Regions from separate parts of the Homo sapiens genome. Here all the other regions are linked to region 3. The links come from fine-mapping of genetic effects on gene expression. A gene starts in region 3. Each other region holds a variant in brackets. All regions are shown on one strand. Distances are from middle to middle. Region 1 has its middle 50 kb from the start of OTP-AS1. Region 2 has its middle 14 kb from the start of OTP. Region 3 holds the start of PDE8B (phosphodiesterase 8B). Region 4 overlaps ZBED3-AS1 (ZBED3 antisense RNA 1).

What was found. PIP is the estimated chance that this variant, and not a neighbour inherited with it, causes the effect.
Region 1: its variant is fine-mapped to the expression of PDE8B in tibial nerve (GTEx, PIP above 0.99).
Region 2: its variant is fine-mapped to the expression of PDE8B in liver (GTEx, PIP 0.99).
Region 4: its variant is fine-mapped to the expression of PDE8B in spinal cord (GTEx, PIP 0.97).

The regions. Positions count from the first base shown.
Region 1 is chr5:77,577,514-77,582,513 of GRCh38, reverse strand. It overlaps a transcript of WDR41 not described here and the pseudogene RPL7P23. Among named protein-coding and RNA genes, the nearest start is that of OTP-AS1, 50 kb to the left of the region's middle. The variant C/A (reference allele first, on the strand shown) is at 2,648.
Region 2 is chr5:77,648,182-77,656,571 of GRCh38, reverse strand. No RefSeq gene overlaps it. Among named protein-coding and RNA genes, the nearest start is that of OTP, 14 kb to the right of the region's middle. The variant T/G (reference allele first, on the strand shown) is at 4,139.
Region 3 is chr5:77,208,659-77,213,658 of GRCh38, reverse strand. It overlaps PDE8B (phosphodiesterase 8B), which reads right to left and starts at 2,979. Exons shown (of 22, transcript NM_003719.5): 1 at 2,395-2,979. The coding sequence starts at 2,733.
Region 4 is chr5:77,135,279-77,143,668 of GRCh38, reverse strand. The region is part of intron 2 of ZBED3-AS1 (ZBED3 antisense RNA 1); the gene reads right to left. It also overlaps a transcript of PDE8B not described here. Among named protein-coding and RNA genes, the nearest start is that of ZBED3, 52 kb to the right of the region's middle. The variant C/T (reference allele first, on the strand shown) is at 4,490.

The sequences.
Region 1 (5,000 bases), 370 kb before region 3:
CCTTGCCTTTCGAAGCATCTTTTGGGCAAACTTCTTTCTCAGGCGCTTGATCTTCAGCTCTACGAAATTCCTTCGCTTTTTCTTAAGGGTTTCTGGCACAGCAGGAACCTCCTTCTTCTTCTCTTCTACACCCTCCATGGTTCCAGCCGGAAAAAGAGGAAGTTGGCGCATGCGTACTCTGCACTTGTTAACTTGTTATATATCTATGCATATTGTCTACTTTCTTGCTGAGCCAGAGTTGGTAATTTGTGTCTTTTAGGAATTTTGTCCATTTCATCTAAGTTATGTAATCTATTGGCATATAATTGTTCATAATATTCTTTGATAATTCTTTTTACTTCTGTAAGTTTGGTAATAATGTTCCCTCTTTCATGTCTGATTCTAGTAAGTTGAGTCCTCCCTTCACTCTCCATTAATCTAGCTAAAGGTTTGTCAATTTTGTTGATCTTATCAAATAACTGGCTTTTGATTTCATTGATTTTTTCTCTAATTAAAAAAATTGTTTCATTTATCTTTCCTCTAATTTTATTACTTATTTTCTTCTTTTGCTTCAGGCTTAGTTTGCTTTTCTTTTTCCAGTATCCTAAGGTGTTAGGTTAGGTTATTGATTTGAGACCTTTCTTCTTTAATGTGGGCTTTTGCAGCTATGTATTTCCTTCTAAGCACTGCTTTAGCTGCATCCCATAAATTTTGGTATGAAGTCTTTCTTTTCATTCATCTGAAAGTATTTCATGATTTCCTTTTTGATTTCTTCTTTAAGTCTTGGGTTATTTAGGAGTATGTTTTATTTCCATGTATTTGTGAGTTTTCCCATTTTTTCCCACTATTGATTTCTAATTTCAACCCATTGTGGTTGGAGAACATACACTGTATTATTTCTATCTTTTTAAATTTACTGAGATTCATTTTGTGGCCTAACATATGGTCTACTGAAGAATCCTCCACATCCACTTGAGAAGAATGTATACTGTTATTGTTGGGTGAAGTGTTCTCTAGAAGTCTGTTATGTGTAGTTGGTTTATAGAGTTTCTCAAGTCTTCTGTCTTCTTGTTGATTTTCTGTCTAGTTGTTCTATCCATTATTAAAAGTGGGATATTGAAACCTCCAGTTATAATTGTTGAATTATCTGTTTCTCCCTTCATTTCTGTCAGTTTTTGCTTTATGCACCTTGGTGCTCCATTTCAGAAGCATATATGCCTATAATTATATCTTCATGGTAGATTGACCTTTTATCATTATAAAATGTCCCTCATTATTTCTGATAATATTTTTTGTTTTAAGGTCTCTTTTGTCTGTTATTAGTAGTATCTGTTATTCAGTTTTTAAGTGATTGCTGTTTGCATAATACATAATTTTTACCTTTTTACTTTCAATCTATTTCTATATTTGAATCTAAAGTGTGTCTCCTGTAGATCATATTTTTTATCCAGTCTGACAATCCTTTTGATTGGATTGTTTAATCCATTTATGTTTAATATTATTACTGCTATAGTTGAGTTTTCATCTGCCATTTTACTTTTTATTTTTATTTTATTTTATTATTTATTTATTTATTTTTGAGACGGAGTCTTGCTCTGTCACCCAGGCTGGAGTGCAGTAGTGCAATCTCGGCTCACTGCAAGCTTCGCCTCCCAAGTTCAGGCCATTCTCCTGCCTCAGCCTCCCAAGTAGCTGGGAATACAGGTGCCCACCACCACGCCTGGCTAATTTTTTTGTATTTTTAGTAGAGATGAGGTTTCACGATGTTAGCCAGGATGGTCTTGATCTCCTGACCTCGTGATCTGCCCACCTTGGCCTCCCAAAGTGCTGTGATTACACGCATGAACCACCGTGCCCAGCCTACTTTTTATTTTTTATATATTTTTTTTCCATTTCTTTTGTACTGCTTTCTTTTGCATTAAGCGTATTTTTCTAAGGCAGTATTTTCATTTCTTTCATGATTTTTTCACTATATTTTCTTGTAATTTTTTGAGGTTGCTCTTGGATTTACCATATGATTTGGTTTGGCTCTGTGTCCCCACCCAAATCTCACCTTGAATTGTAATAATGCCTACGTGTCAAGGGCAGGACCAGGTGGAGATAATTGAATCATGGGGGCAGTTTCTCCCATGCTGTTCTTGAGATAGTGAGTGAGTTCGTATGAAATCTGATGGTTTTATAAGGGGCTTTCCCTTTCTCTCAGCACTCATTCTTTCTCCTGCCATCCTGTGAAGAGATGCCTTCTGCCATGATTGTAAATTTTCTGAGGCCTCTCCAGCCATACTGAACTGTGAGTCAATTAAACCTCTTTTCCTTATAAATTACCCAGTCTCGGGTATGTCTTTATCAGCAGTGTGAGAACAAACTAATACACCATATACACATTTACTTATCAGAATAAACTTCAGATTTATACTCGTTTAATTTCAATAATGTCTATCTATCTAATCTATCTATCTATCAATGTTACTCTTATATAGCTCTATTCCTTTTCTTCTATTTTTGTAGCATTATTGTTCTACATATTATAGCTACTGATGTCACAAACCTAATAATACATTGTTACAATCATCAATTTGTGGTCATTTCCTTAGCCCAATATAGCCTAACTTCTACTCACATTTTTTTTGCTGCCATTGGCAAATATATTACACATATATTATATTTC[C/A]ATATGTTATAGGCCCAACAACACATTACATACATCTTATTTTATACAATTAATTTTTAAATCAGTGAAGATAAGAAAGGGGAAAATATGCAGTTATACTTCTTTTCTGATTACATAATTAACTTTACAACGTGTGTGAGTGCATGTGTTTGAATTACCATCTGGGATCACTTGCTTTCAGCATGTAGAACTTTAGTATTTCTTGTATGGAAGATCTGCTAGTAACAAATTTTCTCAGTTTCTGTTTTCTGGAAAAGTCATTATTATAACTTCTTTTTTGAAAGATAGCTTTTGCTGTATATAGGATTCTTGTTTGACAGGGTGGTTTTTTTTAGCACTTTGAACATGTTGTTCTACTATCTTATGGTCTCCGTTGCTTTTGTTTCATAGTTTGCTGTTAATCTTATTGAGTTTTGTTGTGTAGTTTGCTGTTAATCACTTGTAAATGATGAGTCATTTTTCTTTTTCTACTTTCAAAGTTTTCTCCTGGTCTTTGATTTTGGCATTTTTAGTGTGATGTGTCTATTTACAGATCTCTTTGAATTTATCCTACTTGGAATCATTGTACTTCTTGGGTATGTAGGTTAATGTTTTTCAATAAATTTGAGAAGGCTTCAGCCATTGCTTCTTCTAATATTTTTTCTTTTCCTTTGTCTTTCTTCTCTACTTCTGCTACTCCCATTACACATGTTGGGCAAGCTTAGTCAAGCCCCACATTTCTCTGAGGCTCTGCTCATTTTTCTTCATTCCTTTTTCTATCTTTCTTTGGCTTACATAATCTCAGTTGATTTACCTTCAAGTTCACTGTTTTTTTGTCTGCCAGTTCAAATCTATTATGGAACCTCTGTAGTGAATTTTAAAATTTTCTTTTATTATACTTTTTAATTTCAGAATTTTTGTTTGACTCTTTTTTATAGTTTCTATCTCTTTATTGATATTATCTATTTGAGGAGACACTATGATCATACCTTTCTTTACTTCTTTTTTTTTTTTTTTTTTTTTGAGATGGAGTTTTGCTCTTGTCACTCAGACTAGAGTGCAGTGGTGCGATCTTGGCTTACTGCAACCTCTGCCTCCTGGGTTCAAGTGATTCTCCTGCCTCAGCCTCCTGAGTAGCTGGGATTACAGGCTCCCACCACCAGGCCGGGCTAATTTTTGTATTTTTAGTAGAGACAGGGTTTTGCCATGTTGGCCAGGCTTGTCTTGAACTCCTGGCCTCCCAAAGTACTGGGATTACAGGCGTGAGCCACCATGCCTGGCCCTTTACTTCTTTAATTATGCTTTCCTTTAGTCCTGTTAACATGTGTATAATGGCTACTTTGAAGTCTTTTCCATTAAATCCACCATCTGGTTGCTCTCACTAGCAGTTTCTGTTGCTTGCTATCAGATGTATGGGCCATATTTTCCTGTTTCTTTGTATGACTTGCATTTTTTACTTGGAAAATGGACATTTTAAATAACATATGTAGTACTATGGATACTAAACTGCCCTCCCCCAGGTCTTGCTGTTGTTTGTTTGTTTGCTGGTTTTCTGACTCACTGGTATATTTTAGTGAATCCTACCCTCTACCACCTAGCTCCCTACAGTGTTAAGCCTGTTAAACTCTATGACATTATGGCTAATGTCTCTATTGTTTTCTCCAAATCCCTGGGGGTACGTATTGCTCTGCAAATATATCCAAATTGTGATGGTTCGACTTATGATTTTTTTGACATTACAATAGTGCAAAAGTAATATGCATTTAGTAGAAACTGTACTTTGCATTTTGAATTTTGATCTTTTTTCGGGTTAGCGATTTGCAATATGATACTCTTGCAATGCTGGGTAGTGGCAGTGAGCCATTCTGTTTTTCATTTTCGGGACAGTGCTCAATAAATTACATGAGATAGTCAACACTTTATTATAAAATAGGCTTCGTGTTAAATGATTTTGCCTAGCTATAGGCTAAGGTAAGTGTTCTGAGTGAGCATTTTTAAGTTAGGCTAGGCTAAGCTATGATGTTAGGTATATTAAATGCACTTTTGACTTATGATAGTTTCAACTTACAATGGGTTTATTGGGACATAACTCCATAATAAGTTGAGGAGCACCTGTAGTTTCTGAGGTCAGTGTTTGATATTTGTTCTGATCACAGGTGAGCTTCTCCCAGCTTTCTTATTCTTTCACTAGGAACAGTGCTGCAATATATATTCTTGTATATGTTTCCTAGTGCACATGTGTAAAGTTTCTCTAGGGTAAACATCTAGCAGTAAAATTTCTCAGTTGTATAACATTATGGCCACTTTTATTTAATATTGCCAAAATAATCTTTGAAGTATTTAGATGAATTTCTATTCCCTCCATCCTCAGCAA
Region 2 (8,390 bases), 440 kb before region 3:
ATCAGCAAAGAAACATCAGACTTAACTTACACTATAGACCAAATGGACCTAAATCTATTTACAGAAAATTTAACCCAATGGCTGCAGAATACACATTCTTCTCTCCTCAGCACATGAATCATTCTCAAGGATAGACCATACGTTAGGCCACAAAACAAGTCTTAAAACATTCAAAAAAATTGAAGTTATATCAAATATCTTCTCTGACCACAATGGAAAAAACTAAAAATCCTTAACAAGAGGAATTTTGGAGATTATACAAACACATAGAAATTAAATAATATACTCCTTAATGACCAGTAGATCAATAAAGAAATTAAGAGGAAAATTTTAAAATTTCTTAAAACCTATGGGATAAAGTGAAAGCAGTACTAAGAGGAAAGTTTATAGCTATAAGCACCTTCATCAAAAAAGTAGAAAGTCTCCAAATAAACAATGTAACAATGCATTTAAAGAACTAGAAAAGCAAGAGCAAAGCAAACCAAAAATTAGTAGAAGAAAAGAAATAATAAAAATCGGAGCAGAAATAAATGAAATTGAAATGAAGAAAACAACACAAAAGATCAAATGAAACAAAGTGTTGGTTTTTTAAAAAGTTAAACAAAATCAACAAACTTTTAGTCAGACTAATTAAGGAAAAAAGAGAGAAGACCTAAATAAATAAAATCAGAGATGAAAAAGGAGACATTACAACTGATACTGCAGAAATTCAAAGGATCACTAGAGGCTACTATGAGCAACTATCTGCTAATACATTGAAAAATGTAGAAGAACTGAATAAATTCTTAGTCACCTACAACCTACCAAGATTGAAGCATGAAGAAATCCAAAATCTGTACAGACCAAAAACAAGTATCCAGATCAAAGCCATGATAAAAAGTCTCCTAGCAAAGGAAAGTCTGGGATCTGATGGCTTCACTGCTGAATTTTACCAAACATTGAAAGAAGTGGTAAATACCAATCCTACTCAAACTAATGTGAAAAATAGATGAGGGAATACTTACAAACATATACTACGAGGTCGGTATTGCCTTGATACCAAAACCAGACAAAGATACATCCAAAAAAGAAAACTCTAGGCTAATATCCCTGATGAACATTGATGCAAAAATCCTCAGTAAAATACTAGCAAACCAAATTCAACAACACATTAAAAAGATCACTCACCAGGAGTGGTGGCTCATGCCTGTAATCCCAGCACTCTGAGAGGCCAAGGCAGGCAGATCACTTGAGGCCAGGAGTTTGAAACCAGCCTGGCCAACATGGTGAAACCCTGTTTCTACTAAAAATAAAAATAAAAAATTGGCTGGGCGTGGTGGTGTGCACCTGGATTCCCAGCTACTCAGGAGGCTGAGGCAGGAGAATTGCTTAAACCCAGGAGGCAGAGGTTGCAGTGAGCTGAGATTGCACCACTGCACTCCAGCCTGGATTACAGAGTGAGACTCTGTCTCAAAATAAATACATTAAATAAATTAGTAAATAAATAGAAAAGATCATTCATCATGACCAAGTGGGATTTATCCTAGGGATGCAAGGATGGTTCAACATATGCAAATCAATCAGTGGGGTATATCATGTCAACATTATGAAGAACCTCCAAACTGTTCCCCACACTAATTTACATTCCCACCAACATACAAGGATTCCCATTTCTCCATATCCTAGCCAGCATTTGTTATTGCCTGTCTTTTGGATAAAAGCCATTTTAACTAGAGTGAGATGATACCTCATTATAGTTTTGATTTGCATCTCTATGATGATCAGTAATGTCAAGCAGCTTTTCATATGCCTGTTTGCCATTTGTATGTCTTCTTTTGAGAAATGTCTATTCGAATATTTTGCCCATTTTTTGATCAGATTAGACTTTTCCCTATAGAGTTGTTTGAGCTCCATATATTCTGCTTATTAATTCCTTGTCAGATGGATAGTTTCCAAATGTTTTCTCCCATTCTGTGGGTTGTCCCCTGCCTTTGTTGATTGTATCCTTTGCTGTGCAGAAACTTTTTAACTTGAAGTGATCTCATTTGTCCATTTTTGGTGGAGGGTTTGCCCAGGGGAGTGACATAATTGGACTTCCATTCCAACTGCTGTGCTGGGGGTAGCATGGAGAGGTGCAAGGACAGAGGTGGGGACAAGAGGAGGAGGCTATTCAGCTGTTGCAGTAATCCAGGTACCCTATATAGTGGCTTGAACCTGTGACCGTGAAGGTGGGGAGATCTTGGGATATATTTTGAAAATAAAGCCAAGAAGGTTTGCCATTGAATTGTATGTCTGGGTGGTAACAAGTGATGATTTGAGGGTGACTTTAATCCTTTTGATTGGAGCAGCTGGGTGGACACTTGAGTACCTATTGTATTCTGGGCAGAAAACAGATATGGTCCTTCCCTCAGAGAAATCATTTTGAAATGGGAGAGACAATAAGCAAGCAGACACTTAACTCAATAATAACCTTGGGAGAGGGCTATGGGGGTGATAGTGGGGTCCTGGGATAGAAGGGAACCCCAGAGAGGAAAGGGCCTGGTGGGAGAAAGATGAGAAAGGCCTTGCCTGGAAGGCGAGATTTCAACTGAGGTCTGAAAGCCAAGAAGAAGCCTGCTATGTGAAGAATAGGGGAAGAGCACTGAGTGGAAAGGGAAAATCATGTGTAAGGGCCTTGAATCATAGGAAAAATTATTTTATGAATTTTCAGGAGGCTAAGGTGGCTGGTGTGTGTCCTACCAATCAGAAGTGGAGGTAGAGAGATAAACAGGGGTCAGGTAATGCCAGTGCTTGTGAGCTTAGACAGTAGTATTTGTGTGTCTGTGTGTGTGTATGTGTGTGTGCATGTGCACACACATGTTTATTTTCTAACAGCAATAAGGTTTAAAGTTTTATGATGCTATGTCACCTGGCCTTGAAATTCTGGAAGCAAAGAGGGCAGGCATAGTATTCTGCCAAGATGTGGCCTGAACAGATTTGATGCTGCCTACTTCTTTATTCCACCACTACCCCCTTTTTCTTTTTCTCAAGTTGAGTCCTCAATCTTTTCCTGAGATGAACACACTTCCCTTTCTCCAGATCTTGTGGCTCCACAGAAAGACAGAGGACTTGGACTTCTTTGACAGTTCCGATCTACAAGTGTTGGTGGGACGCCCTTTCCTAGCCGCTTATCCCTGTTTCTTTCTCACTTGAAGGTCTGCCCACTTTGCACCATCCCCTCATGAAAGGAGGTGATATTTGATGGCTGTGGATAGATAAGAATGAATGACAACAAAAATATTATGGTGTGGTAACCTGGAAGTGGCTTGAGAGCCTGTGTGCAGTCGCTATGAGGGACAGCCATTCCTCCCTTTACCACAGCCATACACCAAGTTTCGGAAGGGGGAAAAAGAACATCTTAATTGTGAGCTGATGAGCTGATCAATATTCTCAATTTATCTCTTCAGCTCTAGGCTCCAAATTGAAAACGGGACTGTGAGAATCTCAAAGGGCTGCAGCTGTGGCACATCCCTGCCCTGCAAGGAGCAGTTGCTTCATGCCAAGTAGCACCTCCGAGGTTTCCGGGCACCTGCCCAGGATAGTAGGGTGCTCATGCTGCTTGGCCACTTACAGACTTGTGGGAGCTGCTTGTAGGACCATTGGCATCAGGACTGGTTGTAACTTTATGCTCTGTGGACCGCCCCATACGTCTATTCTGGGTTAGAACAGGGCTCCAGGGGCCAATCCTTTTGTTTCCATAATAACTGTAGCCAAATACAACTTCTCAGCAAGGGTATGGGAAATGTGTCCATGAATGGGTGGGAATGGGAAGGGTTAATAAGAAACATAGCAGCAGCTATCATTGACACAGCACTGTAAGTGCTCCACAGGAAGATTCACCTCAACCTCAGGAGGCAGGTACTATGATTATCCCCATTTTACAGATCATTTAGGGAAGCTCTGCTAGTAGGGATTCTTCTAATAAGTGTCACTGCGCTTAGTGTTTGATAGAAATTTCATACTAATCCTGGCAGTTTCTATGACACTAATCCGGTTAATCCAGGAGGGTGAAAACAGTTCTGGGGGTTGGGAGACCCAAGCCCCACTTTCGATTTCTATTAGTTGTCGTGCCACCTTGGTCCCCTGGGACCTCTGTGTCTCATCTTTAAAGATGCAAATT[T/G]TAGGCAATAATTCCCAAGGACTCTTCTGGCATGGATGGTATATGACCCTTCACTTCAGCATCCTCTATTTTATGTGCATCAAATTTCAGCCCAGTCTCCTGTCCAAAAATGGAGTCCCTCACCACCAATGACTAACAAGGCAGTCTCTGCATTGGGCTCACTTTCCAGGGCTTAGCCTTGAGCACAGAGCTGGAGAGGGAGAGCCTACATTCATTTGCAAAAGTCACACTGGGCTCTTTACCAACAGGGCCGTTTTAACATTGCATCGTCAGGCAGTTGTCCACTCTCATTCTGGACTGCTCTACACACATGGAATTGGCTAGGTTGACCCCATCCTGAATGGGTAGCATAAATTTCAATAATAATAATAAACTCTTCTTCATAATTCTGATTGCTCACTAAGATTAGTTTGAATTGGGAAATCTGATTCCCAACTGCTACTGAACAACTGGATCATTCATTCATTCTTCCTTTTATTCATTCAACAAAATTTTTTTGCACATTATTATGCATCAGAAACTGTACAAGGCTCTAGGGGTACTAAGATATGAAGACCAAGGTTCAGCCATTACAGGGCTTGCATTCTGCTCAGGGAAAGAGGTAATAAACAAATAAGCACATAGCACACTTTTTCAGATAGTGATGAGTGCTGTGCTGAAAAAATAAAGCAAGATAAAGGATGACGAATTATGGATCTACTTGACTCTTTTGGGGGACTCTTTTAAGTTTGGAGAGGAGATGTCAGGAAGGGCATCTCTACAGAGATAAAATTTTACAGAGACCTGAATAAAGAGAGAGCTGTAATCATGTGAAAGTCCAGAGATGTATCCTTCAGGAAGAAGGAACAAAGCAGAAGGTACCATGGCCAGAGGTTGGAATGAGAATGGCAAGTCCGAGAAAAAACAAAAGGCTAGTGTGTGTGCATACTGGTAGCAGCCTTCCATCTGAGCAGGGAGGGCCTTCCTTCATAATCTGACTTGGCTGCACGTTGGCAATTAGAAGAGTAGGATGCAGAAGAGGAATCTCACATGCTGTAACTTTTAAAGATAACAACATATGTGGCAAGACAGCCCAAGCCTACCCTAACATATGCAGGACCTGGAGCAAGAGTACAAACAGAGGCCCACATACTATATGTCCAAATATTTAAAAACTATAAATTAAGCTAACAAACTGTTCAGTGAAATATGTCCTGTCTTCTTACCTTAACAACTATATTTTCATAACAACCTAGAAGTTCAAGTTCAAATTTATAATGTTTGGAGTCCCAGCCCCTAGCTCCAGGTTTGCACCTTCTCTTCCTGCCCACCAGCTGCATCCAGGGCAGCAAGAGGCCTCTCACATGCACAAGTGGTCAGCCCAGCCCAGTTGTCCAAGCTCCCCCCACATCTCATCACAAGCAGCTGCCTCTTGGGCCTGGGAGTGTGCACATGACAGATGGGCAGATGTGGGAGAGACCCACAGAAGTTCTGGAAGCAGGAGCAGGACTGTTGGGCAAGGAATTCTGGGGCCCCAGGTAGTCTACAGGGGGAAGAGCAGGCTCTTGACGGGCTGCAGCTGGAGATGGTCCAAATGGGGCTGTTTAAAGCCAAGGTCCAGGGCAGGCAGCTCCTTCTCATCCTGTATAAGGACAATACCTCACCTGAACTACTACTGCAGGTTGTTCCTGGAAGGTGAATATTAAAGCAATCATCCTCCATGCAGAGACAAGCTAAGACCCAGGGAATGAAGGCTGAGGTCAAGGTGCTGGAGAAGTTGAGCTTAACCTTCCAGGCTAGACAAAGGAAGAGCTGATAGAGATCTTGGACTTTGTAAGCTGGGAAGGTTACACGTTTCTTGTATTTTCTATGTTTATGCTCTTCTTTGTCTTCTCTACATCTATCTATATTAAACTCTTTGAAAACTCCATGCAGTCTTGGCTAAGGGAAGCCCAGGGAAAGGTTTTGATCTTTACTTCAGCCAAAATATTTAAGGGGGCAGCAGCACCTGGGTGCCAGCAGGAAGTCACGTGAAAGAATCCAAAGAAGGAGGTGAGGCCTCTGATTCAGGGGTGTCTGCCAACCCTTGTACCTCCACACACACACTCCTGAAAACTTTCTTTCAAGCACTAACTTTGGAAGTTCTGAGTGAGAAAAAGAACCCCTTAGTCCACAAAGACTGCTAGAGACTCTAGTGTCTGTTCTCTCTTTCTGTCTCTCACTAATATAACTCTCTGTTCTCACATGGAATACGAATATCTAGTGTAAAAATACGATTTCCCAACCTTCCCTGTAGCTGGGTGTGGTCATTTGACCAAGTTCTTGACAATGGGATTGAGAAGTGATGTGTGCATCTTTAGGGTTGTGCTTTCAAAGGAAGAAGGATACTCTTGTCTTTCTCCTTTCTCTTCCTGCTGGCTAGAATATGACATGGTGGTGAGCCATCCTGGATAACATGGACAAGGGGGACATCCTAGCAGATAGGAACAAGATAGAAGAGGCGGGGTCGCTGACACCATAGACCAACCATGACAGTCCTGGAGTTCTTGCCTTTAGACTATTAAGTGAGAGAGAAACTTCTATCTTGTTTAAGCCACTGTTGGTTTTTGTTACTGCTGCTGTTGTTTCTTTTATAGCCACTGAACTCTCATCCCAACAAATATAGTAATTTTACCACCCCTTGGAGGGAATGCATTCCTCACGTTTAATTTCCCATGTATAAAGGACTTTTTAAATGCTTTAAACGAAGGTTGTAGGTTGTCTCCTAATCTATATTTACACTCTCGTCACCATACTGAATTGTATAGATTTTTGTTGCCATCCTGAATTGTATAGATTTTGATCATGTCACACCACAGCACATCTTCCTATGTTGAAATCCTTTGAGTTTTAGCTTGACCTCATAGAGAACAACTCTGCCTTTCCTAAAATTCAATGATTTCAATTTTATTATCTTCTCTCAGTTAAATGGTACCATGGGCTATTTAGTCTTTGGGCTGGGAACCTGGCCCAGAACCTACAAATGTTGATTGAATTTAATTAACTTGAATTGAACTTCAAAAAGCATTTTCTCTTCAGAGAGATAGCATGAACTAAGCATAAACTAAGTCCAGGGTTTCATTCTATCCCAAGTAGACAACATGAAGGCATGGAGGGAAGTAGGGCTTAAAGCGAATTCCTCTACAGGAACATGTTTCCCCTTATGGCCCCAGCTCACCTCAATTTCCTGACCACTCCCTATGCACACTTCATGTCTCAGCTTAGACGTCACCTCCCAGACCCCTAGACTAGGTTCATTTCCTCTGAGTTATTATCTCAAAGCCTCTGGGATTTGCTTTTTATTACATACATCATACTTGTGTTTACTTCTCTGCTGGCTATTTTTGTCAATTATAAAAGCAAGACTATACCCATTGTATCCACAGGCCCTAGCTCAGTGCCTTGCTCACAGCCAGTGCTCAATAACAATTTAGAGCCAGGTGTGGTGGTGAGCAACTGCAATCCTGGCTACTCAGGACACTGAGGTGGAAGGATCCCACGTACTCAGGAGCTCAAGGCTAGCCTGGGCAACATAGCGAGACCCCTGTCTCTAAAAAAAAAAACAGTCAATGGATGAATAGATAATCAATGAGTGGCATTATCCTCGGCTCTTCTTTCTCATACCCCACATCTAGAAGCACATCCTAGGCTTCCTAGGAAATACTTCTAGATTCCAACCACTTATCACCTCCTCCACTGCTCTCATTCTGGTCCAAGCAGCCATCATTTTCCCCTTGGATTATTACATTAGGCTACTACCTGGCCCCTCTGCCTCCACTTTCCACCTTCCATCCCTCCTCTGGCAAACACACACCATTTTTTTTTTCAGTACAAGTATTAGAGAAGACTGAAGATGGGGTCAAGTCATAAATTAGGGCCATATTGAAGATAGCATTTTTGTCCCCTCCCAGAGCAGGAAAACCATGGAGCCTTCTCTCTCATGTTTTAACCAGCTCAGGTAAAGACTATAGCACTCAATTTCTATTTAGGTAGGTATGGCCATGTGACTAAACTCTGTTCCATGCATTGTGAGAGGAAGTAATAGAAGCATTTTTGAGCCATGCCCTTAAAAGAAAGGAATGAGCCTTCCTCTTCATCTCCGTTTCCAGCTACCCAACATGCAGAGGTGATGGCAGGAGCTGGAGCAGCCATCTTAGGCTGCAAGATGGAAGAATATGTTAAGGAAGACAGAGAACAATAAAGAAGGCTGGGCTGGGCATGGTGGCCAAGCCTG
Region 3 (5,000 bases):
TTTATTTTTCCACCTGTGTGCTTTGGAAAGGGGTGGGGCACCACCACGTGCCTAGCAACTATCTCAAACTCTTACGGCAAAAAAAGAATGCTTAGTCTACAAAAAAATGAATGTAAAGTTTTTATAAAATTATCTCAGCAACAAAAGGGCACAGAACATGTGAACTTTACGATTGAGAAAAGACAATACAACACCGAGTCACAGGCCTAAAAGGATACTATTAAATATATTAGGGCAGTTCTGTGATAATAATTCTGTAAGATTTGCATAAATAACTCTGGTCTCAAATTTCACTTCAAATATATACTTTCTGAGATCCACACAATGCAAAGTAGTGTTAAGTCAATGAACCAGGGGTTTCATTTCCAACATTCCCAGTAATGGGTTAGAGTGAATTAAGCTCTTATTTGGGAATCTTCTTGATAAAGCAAAATGAGTTAAACTCCTACCCAGGTCAAGCCTTTTAATACTTAAGCCAAGTAGCAATGAGATTAATACAAGTTTATACAAGCTGCTAATAATTGGGGCTCATTGTCCCTTCAGTTTTTACTTCATTTGGTCTCTAAGCAGCCTCTTGAGGGAAGTATTAAAAATGTACAGAATGGGTTCATTCAGTATTCTTTCTTCTACTGAACAAACATGGAGTAGCTAGAGTTGCCAAGTACTAAACTGAGATTATAGATATTCTAGAAAACAAAAATTCACAATTTCTCTGGAGCAACCAAAAAAAGTATCACAAAGTTCATGAGCTGTCACAATTTTGAACTACTGCTTCAGGTCTTCAACCGTCAGGCAAAAGGATGGTCTTTACTGATAATATCCCAACTTAATATTTTCACCAAATTTAACATTTTCATCCCTGAAAATTGCTCCTAAAGCTAACTTTGTGTGAACAGGGAGGGGGAGAGAGAGAGAGCTTGACAAAAGCAAAGTATAGCGTTCAGCACATGCCTCTGTAACGAATGGGCAACTGGTAGGTTTGTACTGTCATAAATCCTAGACTCTAGTCTTCAGACATGCTATGCTAAGATCACACTGTTAACATTCAATAGTTAGGAGAGAAAGCTTACTCCTGGCACATAGTAGGTGCTCAATAAACGATGTTTTTACTATAATGGTGATTATGATTACTGCCAGAGAAACACTGCAACCACAAGCAAACATCAGTCAAGCTTCATGTTAAACAATCAGATGCTGTTAAAAAAAAAATAGGTTCATTAAAAAACTTTTGGACTTCCAGATTGAAGCCAAAACATGTTATCCTTCTCCTCACTCCTCCACTGTGGGCTGCCTTCATCCAATGAAGACCAAGTTTTTAACTATTAAAAATACAAATGTGTCTTTGACAAATAATCCATGGAATGGTTCTTGGTAACCTATTGACCAGGTAAAGGCTGTGATTCTATCTGACATTAGGAGTATTTTTTTCTCTCTGTACAATAGGATATGCCATTGTTATCTTGTTTGCTGAAAGGAAAAAAGACCCAGTGCCCAGATTTACACAATGAAAAGCCTCTTGGATTTAACGGTACTTTGAGAACATACGGGAGGACACTATTTAAATAATTATTTTTCTTCTGTCTTTAAGAAATAAATATTTAGCGACTGCTTTAACCATCTAAACAATTTTTTCCACTTCCTCAAAATCCCACTCTCTGGGAAGATCAGTTGTATGTGCAGAATCATCCTCAGACAGCTGTACTGCACTGGAAACCACGTCCCCTCACGGTGGCTCTGCTGACACTCCGAACTCATGGCCCGGTTCTCTCAATTCTGTCTAGGATGCAGCCAACCCAGAGAAACGTTACAGTGACAAACAACAGGTTCCACTCTGCTCCGTTCCCACATCTCTTAAAACACGAACACTCATTCATTCACAAATCCCTACGCTCGGTTCCTGTGCTGAGACTCCAGCCTGGCTGGTAATCCCAGGTAAAAATCGGAATATGGGGCACTATCTATCCTGGTGCTGCAACTGCACCAGTCACCTACAAGGCACGCAAATCCAGCTCAGTGCTCAGATTTCATTCAACAGGACTGGCCACCGAATGCTCTCAATGGTCCCCACCCCTCTTCCTGCATAAACCAAGCCACAGCCTTCCTGCCCTCAAGGAGGAACAGGCCAGCCCACCTGCTTCCTTCTGCGCTCCCTTCCCCGCCCAGTCCCCCAGGACCAGCTAAGGACGCTTCCAGGACCCCTCCAGGGGCCTTTTTCTGACCACATTTCCTGGGCTCCCATCATCTCCACAAATGAAAAGTAAACTCCTCCTTAGTGACAACCTCTCCAAACCAACCGCCTCACGGTCACCCAACTCCGCCGGAGCCCCCTACCCGTGCGAGCCCCGCCGACGGGGCGGACGGCCCCCACGGCGTGTGCCAGCGCGGGGCATTTACCTTCACGCTGGTGTAGCAGGTCTGAGTCTCGGCCTCGGCGCTGCTGCAGCAGTGGCGCCTCCGGCCCCTGCTGGTGGTCGCGGCGGGGGCTGCGGAACCCGCGCTGCTACCGCTGCCCAGCTCGGTGCGGGCCCTGCGGACGCGGGCTACGCTGGGGGGTCCCGACGCGCGGCTCGGGGGGATGGCGTCGGCGGCGTCGGTCTGGACGAAGAGGCCGGGCAGGGGTGCCGCCGGGCCCTGCGACACGCTGGTGGTCTGGCGGGGCGAGCTGGACTCGTCCGAGTCCCGGCAGTAGATCACGCCGCTCTGCGAGACATGGATGCTGGGGGCGCAGCCCATCCCTCGGCCGGGCTCCCCCGCGCGCCCGCCCGCGCCCGCGGCCGCCGGGACCCAGCGCACCCGCTGCCACCTGCAGTGAGGGGGCGGCCGCGGCGGCGCCCGGACTGCGCGCCCCCCGGCCTGTGTGTCCGCCGCTCCGTCGGGCTGGCCGCGGTGCCCCCCGCCGAGCCTCCGGGGACCGCGCGCGTCACCCCAACTTTCCCTTTTGGGCCATCTTCCTCCCCGAGCGGGGGAGCGCGCATACACAGCGCCCCGCGCGCACCAGCGGCCGCCACCCTCCCCGCCGCGGCGCCCCAAACACGCTCCCCGCGCCTCCGCCTTCCCCTCCTCCCTCGGCGCGGCCCCCGCCGCCGCCCAGCTCGACCTCGCCGGGCTCCCGCACCCGCGGCCCTGGGCCAGGGCGCCCGCCCGCCTGCCCGCCTGCCTGCACCTTCTTTCCCCACTTTCGGTCTGCGCCCGTCCCCTCCCTCCCTCGCTCCCACCCTCCTTCCTCCTCAGGTGCCCCGGCTCCGCGGCCGCAGCCGCCCGGGCCCCACTGCGCCCCTCCGCCCCTCCCGCCGCTCCCGGAGCTCTCCCGACAGGGCAGAGCGTGCCCGCGGCTCGGCTCCGCCGCGGGGCCCCTGTGCGCGGCAGCTGGCACCGCGCCTCGGCGCCCTCCCCTCCTCCTCCGCTGTCCAGAGGCCTCGTCTCTTCTGCACTCATCCCGACGCCGCCCCCAGCGCCCCAGCCCCTCTTCCCCTGAAGGGCTGTGTAAGCCTCTCGCTTTTCACCAACACATTTTCACACATCCCAGAGCTAAACACCAGGAGGCCCCTCCCGAAATGGCAGGGGCCCTACAGCCCAGGCCCACCCACCGCATTTGCTTGCCTCTCAACACACCCGGGAAGTGATGGAGAGACCTCATGGTTCCGTCCTCTTCCCCCAGCCCCACCGCCTACTCCGAAGGCTGAGTTGGATGGTGACCCAGTCTTCAGAAGAAGCCCATTCCATGTCTACTCATCGTTTGGAAGTTTGTGCCAAGGGATGGGAGGCCCTGCGGAGGAAGGCACCCTTGAACACATACGTTCCCCTAAGATCCAAGGCAAGAACAGAAAGAAGCTGTCTGATGGTTCTTGGCTTTCTCCCCCATTTTCACCTCTTCCTTAGGTGTCACTAAATGTTCATGCTGGTTTCTATCCCGTCCAGCCGCCCATGTCAACTGCTGTTCCTCACACTCTGGGCTGGGCAGTCAACAAGGCCTTCCCTCATTCTCCTTGGTGAGGCATGCACAGACTGAGCTGTGCTGGAGGAGAGGAAGAATGCCTTTAGAAGGATGGCTGCTGTTCATCCTTCCCTTGTAAACTCTGAGTTACAGCTGCGAGACACCACTGCCCATTCAGTCACTGGTTCCCGCAGTAATTCCTGCCCGATTTTCACAATGGCACGGGGAGATAAATTAGATGGTCTAAGAAAGGATTTTATCTAGAGTTGCTTATACGGACAAGGGCAGTAACATAGAGGCTTAATGCAAGGCACAAAGAAGTATCCAATTTTAAGGTTTGTTTTTTGTTTTTTTTTCATTCTTATTTTCCTTTTTCTTCCTGGACCACTCTTGGATGTGACTGGATGAAGACTTCAAAAGACAGTTTCTAAATTTCATAGAGAAGCAAGATATCATTCCCAATCCCAAATTCAGTTATACAGGGAGAGTCTAACCTTATTCTTCTACCTTTGCTTCTCTTCTCAGTTTAGCTCTCTTTTTTTGATACAAAAAAACTCCATCTCCAGCTAACCTGGAAAAAGTCTATGCTGTATTTTTTAATGGACAGGCAAATTGCTCATAAAATTTCTGCACAGGTTGGGTCCTCCTAGAAGCAGATTCTGAGATGGTGTTTAGCAGGCAGAGGGAGGCTTTTTAGGAAGTGCTCTTGTAGTCAACATTTGTGGGAGGAAATAAAGGGAGGGAATGGAGGGAGGCAAGCTTGAGCAGAGGGAGAAATTGACCAAGCCTCAGGCATCCCTGCAGGGAGGATTCTGAAGGTGGGATGATGCTTCAGAGTTGTTCTGAGTTGGGGCTGGGTTCTGAGTTGTTCTGGTGGGCCTTTATACCCCAGCATGGACCAGTCTTTACATGCAGGCCACCTCAGCGACCTTGGGCAAGGTGGCTCTCTTCAGCTGAGGCACTGCCCCTAGGAGATGTCAGCTGAGCCAAGGGCTTTCTGCTGGCAGCACTCCCAGTAGCTGGAGGAGTAAGTCCTTTCCTGGCATCATAGCCTCCACCCACAGTT
Region 4 (8,390 bases), 72 kb after region 3:
AGTTTGAAGACTGATACACCTCTCTCCTCTGAATGAATGTAGACATTTCCCTAAAGGGCTATTTTTCAAAACCTTTCATCAGTTACTTTGTCTCCCCTGGCTCCTTTCCAATTTCTCCATAACATCTTCCACTTATGGGCCCCAAGACTGAACAGTATGTTTTAATGACTGATATTGGCTATAGATTAAGAATTATATCTGTGAAAATATTTCCATTATAACATAGCTCATTGTTACAAAGATCTACACATGTAAGAAATCCCTGGCGTATAACAGGTTACATTTCAAAACTTTCTTTGTAGATCAATTATTTGGTATTTGGGCACATTTTTCCATAAAAACAATGTTATATCTTGTATTTGGACTCTGAGCCTAGCAAACAAGAGCCAGTTTAATCCACAGAGCAATAATGATATCAGGTTGAATTTCAAGAACAGGAGTTCTCCGATGTTGAGAATAGAAGACGCAAGATGATGGGAATCTCTTCCTCCAGTTTCTCATCAGGGAGCCGCACATAGGGAACATTAGGAAAGGGATGGCTATTAACTTTGGGTGTCTTCTCACATTCTTTTCTGGCCCTCCCCACCTCCTTGGGTTCTGGTTCCCGATATCCTAGGGTTCCCCGAAGTCTCCTAGGGTGCTGCCTCACTCAGATCTTCCCACAGTCCCCAACTCTCCATGCCTCAATACATCTTAGCTCCTCTCTCTTATGATCCAAACACACATTTCCTTAATGAAGCTAAGTTTGGGAGAGGGTTAGGATGACAAGCTTTCCTTGAACCAGCTGCCATTGAGTAAATTCTGAGCAAAGCGTCTGTTTTTAAATGAGTAGCTTACTTATCCAAAAGACTCTCATCTGTGCAGTTTCAGGCACTGCCACAAAATTAAAAAAAAAAAAAGATTACATGAAGGGAATAATTTGGGGAATGTGGAAGCCATTATAATAAGTGTGCTTATTCTTCCTGCTTGGGAATCTATCCCAAATGGTACCTGCTTTCCACAGATTCCCTCCTTTCCCCCTTTCTGAATCACAGATTATATGCCCCAGATTGTTTTCAGCAGTTCCAAGATTTTTAAAATTGTTTTTATCTTGAGAAATTACTGAATTAAGGCAGATAGACAACCCCCTGCCACCAGAAGAGTACATACTGTAGGATGCCATTTATATAAAACTAATCTATAGTGATAGAAAACAAATTGTTTAAGCAAAAAATGGATTACAAAAGGGCCTGAGAAAACTGTGGGAGGAAACAAATGTTGATTGTGGTAAAGATTCCATGGGTACGTACACTTGTCAAAACTTATCACATTGTGTACTTTAAATAAGTGCAGTTTAGTGTACATCAATTATACTCAATAAAGTTGTAAAAAAGAGAAATGCAACCAATATGCAAAAAGACTAATTGGCATTTATTAACAGCTCATATTTGCCTCAAGGATTGTTTATAAAAAATGAACTAAATAAAACAGATAAAAGTGACATCCCCAGACACAGTTCCAGTTCTTTACTGCAACCTCCAGAAGCAAGTAGCATGAATTTAGTGTATATCCAAATCAGTCCACTGGTAATAATTTTACATACATATATAGTCTTAATATAATGTATTATTTCTGTGTTTTTAAAATTTATATCAATGACATGCACATTTTATTCCATGAATCTCTTTTCTTTACATTATGTTACGTGTTGGTATTATATAGATACTTTATACATGGATATATTATGTTATATATGGGAACAATCCATTCCTTCTAATGGCCATTATAACAATTCATATCCTAATAGAATATTATGGTAATTCATATCAAAATAGAACGTGAATATGTTACATTTTATTTATAAATTCTCTCTTTGATAGGCATTTCAGTTGTTTCTAAGGTTTCATAATTATAAGCAATATTGCAATAAGCTAAGGTTTTCAAAACAAATGTCATGGTATTGGCGGTAGGAGTTACTGGGTAGTAGCCACCTGGTAGGTATATAGATAGGTCTTCTATGAGTCAGATATTGGTAAAGTAGAATGTCCTGTTTCAAGGATCCATGGACTGCACAAAAATAGCCAAAGTTGAATAAGACCCTGTCTTTAAATTCCAGAACAACAAAGTGGTGCTATTATGTATCCTGCAGAGTTGGAGATGATTCAGAGGACAATTCCAATGCCCCATAGAGTTTAAATCTGACTTGGATACAGTTGAGATTCAAAGCAGATGACCTCCCACAAAGCAGGTGGGTTAGATGCCTTTAGCAATAGGCCAAAGCAACTCAACTCTATCTGTTGCTGTTTAAAGCCTTCTTGAAGGTCGTTAATGTTAAATGAGCACCAGAAAATGTATATTCATTGCTTCTAGGTTACTATGTTTGATACATATGTATTAAATCTACCTTGTTTATAGTATTAGATCCCTCTTTTGTGCTTAATTTTTACTCTCTTGATTTGGTAAAGGTTCAAGGTAGCATGTTAAAGCATCCCATTGCTATTATGTTTCTAACAATTTTTCTAAAAACAAACATATACCAATTCCCAAAATTTATAGCTTTGTTATAATTTTAGAATATTGAAAGGTAAAATTCATATCTCAAAAGTATAGAGAAGAGAACTTCTAGCAATATAGTGGACTGAGATTATATAGAAGAATTCCCTCTTCAGTTACTGTTACAGGGAAACACAGAGAAAATTTTTTTATATATCTATATATACACATGTATATGAGTACAAATATGTACACACACACATACATGTATGTGTATATATACGTACATGTGTATGTATATATACGGTGGATGTACCTGACAGCAATAACTTAAGCATACTCTGTACAGCAGCCTGTATGGCAAACACATCTGACAGCAATAACTTAGCCTAGGAAATGGGGGTTGCCATGTGGATGTTGCTGGAGAGAGGGTGCTGAGTGAAGGTGCTGTATAAACTGCAGGCTTTTGGAAAGCAGTTGTGGTTCTCTTATCCAGCCCACTGCCACTAGTCCATCCCTGTACATAAGTTCCCCCAAATCAAATCTTATGTCTCATTTGCTGGCTCCAGGTCTCTTCTTTGGCCTCTTGAACCTGGTGCCATTCCTATTGGAGTCAATAGGGGTCCAGCACAACAATCTCTAGACAGAGAGAAAGGGAAATCCCCAGATTCTAGAAACAAAGAGGGAGCTCAGAGGCTGGGCAGTAAGTAGGGGCTAATGTCACTGTAGCCTCTGCAGGGTTTGGACCAATGATAGGCCCTGGAGATCTGGGGATTTTAACACCCTTGGGATTTTAACACCCTTGCAGGCCAATAAAATATTGTCTCTGGTGTGAGTAAGGAAGGCAACTGGAATTGAGCACTTTGCAAAATCTGAGTTCCTGAGGGCTACAGTGTTGGCAAAAACAAATCAGGAAAAAAAGCTCCCGTGTCCTTGGGCTATAGGTTTAAAAAAATAAAAATAAATTTAAAAAAAGGTCATACAGAAAAACTTGAAGCCAAGCCCATGCCATGCATTGAAGTGAGCTCTGAATTTTCACTGTGGGCAGAAATACCAAGAAACATTAGAGCTGGTTGAGAGTTGGTGATATCGGTAGGATGCCATCAGAAGCAAACTTGCAGGCATAGTGAAGTGACAATCACATTACCCAAGGCATACAGATCTTCACCAGAGGGGAGAAATCCCTGCTGAAAATAAGCTCATAATAAAAATTACAAACCATAGGAGGAAACCACCTTGAGGGTCAGATCATGAAATTAACAGAAAAAGTAATGCCCAAGAAGTAAAGAAACAGATCAAGCCACAGATGATTATAAAATAAGTACATTTTAAATGATTTACAAGGGCAAAGGAAAATACAAATTAAAAAACAGAAAAACATGTGAAAACAAAATGCAGATTTAGAAAATAACCAAATAGTTCTTTTATAAATGAAACTTATAGCCACTGAAACTTAAAACTAAATAGAAATATTTAATGGTTGAATAGAAAATAAGCAAACTGGAACTAAGGAAATGACTCAAAATGTAACACGGAAGTAAAAATGGAAAAACAATGAATGAAAGTTTAAGATCACAAAAGACAGAACCAGAAATGACAGAAAAGACATCCACTAGGAGTTTTGGAATGAGTGAATAGAAAATGGGAAAGAAGTAATATTTGAAGTGACAGTGACCGAGAATTTTCTCAGATTTGACAAGACAGGAATTCCTAGATTGACAAGTACACTGTATTGATACCTACTGCTGTATAACAAACCATCCCAGCATTTAGTGGATTAAAACAACCACCATTTATTTAACTGGCAGTTCAGTGGGTGAGCAACTTGGGCCTGGTTCAGCTGAGAGGTTCTCTTGGGCTTGAGAATGGGTTTACTCACACATTGGTAGTCATCTGGCAGATGCAGTCAGCAGGCCACGGCCTGGCTCCTGCTGGCCTAGCAAGAAATAAAGGGGAAGAGAAGGAGCCTCAGTCCAGGGGGGCTCCCTGCAGAGAATGCTCTGTTTCGCTTAGCAAC[C/T]ATCATGCCACAGACAAGTTACTCTGGCAGTGACCCAAGACCTCTGTGTTCTAACTTAATGTGCTGGGGTATAGCGTGTTCTGCCCTTTTACACAGATTGTGACAGATGTTGACTAACTGGGAACGACTTGATTCCAGGAGGGGCCGTGGGAGTCATTTTAATTAATGGCTTGACATTTCTTTGCCATTGTTGCAAGCTTGAGGTAACTAATGGTTAGTTTTACCCATGACCACTTCGCCCTGCAAATTCAGCTCAAATAACCTAAATTAAAATAGAAATTGCTTTGGTCAGGGTTAAAATTTGTGCTGTTAGGACTATAGTCCTAAGACTTTTTTCTTTTTTGGATTATGGCTAATGTTTAAAAGAATCAACAAGACTTATCTGTATCTTTACATAGTGTTTTAGATCGTTGGATAGGCAAAGTAGAAAAGGCGAGTCTGGATTGTGGGAAATAAAAGCAAGTAGAAAAAAATTGAAAATGCAGATCATTTCAAAGAAGAAAACAACAAGGCTTTCCCATCTGGGGCTTCCTAAAACATGAATTCCTCTCAGCCAAGTAGTGGAACCTAAAAAGTCATTTGTTTTTCCTAAATAAACTCCATGCTGGAGTCTTTGATAAACAAACTGATAGGAAATAAGGAAACCCTGTTAAAAATCACAGTAGACTTTAGAATGAAAGAAGCCTGCTTACTTCTGTTCTGGAAATACTCAGCTCTGGAAAGGGCTTCCAGGCGGATCATCCTCACATAATTTTTATACTTGAAATATACAAGCTATGGGAGAAAGCAAAAACAAAAACAACAGAAAAACCACCCTGAGGGACAAGAGGGAAAAGTGTCACCTGTCCCAAAAATTTAATCCATTTAAGACCTAAAAGCAGGGCCAGAGGGAAGGTGTAGGGAAGGGTGGGGACAAGAAACCATCCATGTGGCTTCAGGATGGGAGGGGGCTGAAGAGAAGCCACCCCCCGGACTCCAAATTTCCAAGGACAATATCTATTTCAAATATTCACTTGTCTCCTTCTCCTCATAAATGCCCTTGGACTTGTATTACTAGATGTTCAGATAAATAGTTTTAAAAATTGTGTCACTATTATCATGGGAAGTCCAAGGGGAGTAGGGAAGTTATTACTTTTTTTAAGTATTACTTTTAATAGCAAAAACCGCAATTACTTTTGTACCAACCTAATAGAAAGGGTCTTTCCAGCTACCTTGGCAACCATGCTTATTTCCAGTGCTTCTGGGTGGGCAGCATGTCTGTGCTTTTGCTATGGTTAGTCTGTAGATTTGGTGTCCTCCTTGCCTTTCTCAGACTTTGAAGTCTCCCCTTTGCTTTAATGAAAAAAAGTCTCTCCTTGGCTTTAATGATGATCAATCTGTAGCCATTTTACCCCCACATAAACCACACCCTATTTTAATCCTTCAGGTGAAAAATGCTCAAGTTGGACAAGATCCACAAAATATGAGGGCAAAGTGGAGCTCTTAGCTGGAGCAAAGGTGTGACTTTATGTTTCCGTAGGGAGCCTTTTTCTGCAGGGTACACAGAGGGCCACTTGCTGACACTGGAATTCCACTGCTTGTGCTTCTTACTTTGCGTGAAGACACTGAGAACAGATGGCATCAAGGCGGATCTGACATGGCCACTAGAATAGCTTGGACAGGAGTTCAAATAAACTGCGTCCACCTTGACTCTGCCTTGGCCAGAGCATCTCATATCTGTTTCTTCTTCTCTAGTTGACTGAGTGCACCTCAACCCACTTGCAGTTCCCATCCCATTTTTGAATAGGCCATTTGGAAAAGAGCTCTTTCCCAGCTCAATCATGCTTTCTGCTCTTGTCTTTCAATCCAGCTGCATTTGTTCACCCCTGTGGGTCCTCCCAGCCCTGCTAGGCCAGTCTCTCCTGGGGTGTTCTGCACAAGCTAGCTATGAATTAGGCATGCTCTCTTTTAACATGAAAATAACCTGGAAGACTTTCAGCTTAAGATGATGGAGAAAAGACCTTATCTCTCCTTTCCCCTGTCAGCAAAAAGATGAGAAACAGAAGCGCACATCACAATACATGATGACAAAAAGCAACTAGAGGACTCTGGCCTTAGCGGAATAGAGAAAGGTGAAATGTAAGAACCTGCAGAGAATGAAATCACCAAGAAGCAAACTGATTTTGTCCTGTACGAACTCTCAAACTAGTGCCCAGGCTTTGAGCACTAGTTGGGGTGAGGCAACTGATAAAAATAGAGAGATTTGTTCAAAATCTATTTAATAAACATATAGTCCTCACCCATAGCCCAAAAAAAGTGATGAAAACCCTTCCTTACAAATATTTTTGGAGGAAAAACTGAACCAGAAGTTTCTAGTATATGATGGGGGTTAGAATCCAGAGTAAAAATATTGAATGATGCAAATGTTCTCCTCATCTCAGCTGCAAAAATGCCAGCAGCTAGGCTTATACCCTTCAAGAGGGAGACCGGAAGATTCTTCTCTCCAGACATCAATTCTCCAGAGAGAATTCTAACAGATATTGACATCTGAGTTTCTCCCATTGACAAAGCCACCTTACTGCCATACACACTGCAGTGGAACCAAGGAGGGTGACAGTTTTCAGGACAAGAGGAGGCTGAGGAGAGGTCACCCCCAGACTCAAAATTTCCAAGGATGGTACCTATTTTAAATATTCAGTCTCCTTTTCTTCATAAATGTCCTTGGACCTGTATTACTAGATGTTTAGATAAGTGCTTTTAAAACCCTCCCAAGCCCACAGACTTGTCATTTAGCTGGCTAGTGCTTCACTCTCAAATAAGAACAGATAGTCAAAAATCAGTAGACATTTGAAAAAGTTTCCTTACATGAAAGACAGACACAAAAGTCAAACCAAACAAAACAAAACAAAAACAAAACAGAAAAGGCTACTTAGAGGAAGTAGAGACAAGGTAGGGAATAAATAAACACTTCAAAGACAAAACTAGAAATAACATCCTTAGATAAGAAGAGAAAGTGCATTCATGAAAGGAAAACAGAATAATATAGAAAACAAGTAACTGGAAAATAAGAAAGAGCTCTTGGAAATTAAGAGTAAGAAAGCTGAAGTTTTAAAAGTTGCTAGAAAAGTTGAATGATAAAGTTGAGGAAGTCTTTTAGAAAACAGAACTGAAAGACAAAGATGTGGGCAATAGAGGAAAAAAGATAGGAAAATTAGAAGCTTGATCCTGGGGGTCAACATCCAACTAATAGGAGTTCCAGAAAGAGAATTTTGAGGCCAGGCACCTCAAATTTGCCAATGCTCATGCCTGTTATCCCAGCACTTTGAGCAGCTGAGGTGTGGGTGAGGGACCGTTGCAGGCCAGAAGTTCAAGACCAGCCTTTTCAATATAGCAAGATCCTGTCTCTATTAAAAAAAAAAAAATTCCAGCCAGGCACGGTGGCTCATGCCTGTAATCCCAACACTTTGGGAGGCCGAGGCGGGTGGATCACGAGGTCAGGAGCTCGAGACCAGCCCAACCAACATGGTGAAATCCCATCTCTACTAAAAATACAAAAATTAGCTGGGCATGGTGGCGCGTGCCTGTAATCCCAGCTACTCAGGAGACTGAGGCAGGAGAACTGCTTGAACTCTGGAGGCGGAGGCTGCAATGAGCCGAGATCGTGCCACTGCACTCCAGCCTGGGCCACAGCGAGACTCCGTCTCAAAAAAAAAAAAAAAAAAAAAAATTCCTCTGGCTGAAAGTCTTGAGTCCCTCAACTGAAAGGGTCTCCCAAGTGTCCAGCACAATGAATTCAAACCATACTAAGTCATATTATTATTTCAATTAGAAATGCTGTGGCATTTATGTCATTTTGGATCCTCTTAGATGTCAAGATGAGATTAGGTAGTCAAGAGATTTATTGGGAGAAATGCCTGTGAAG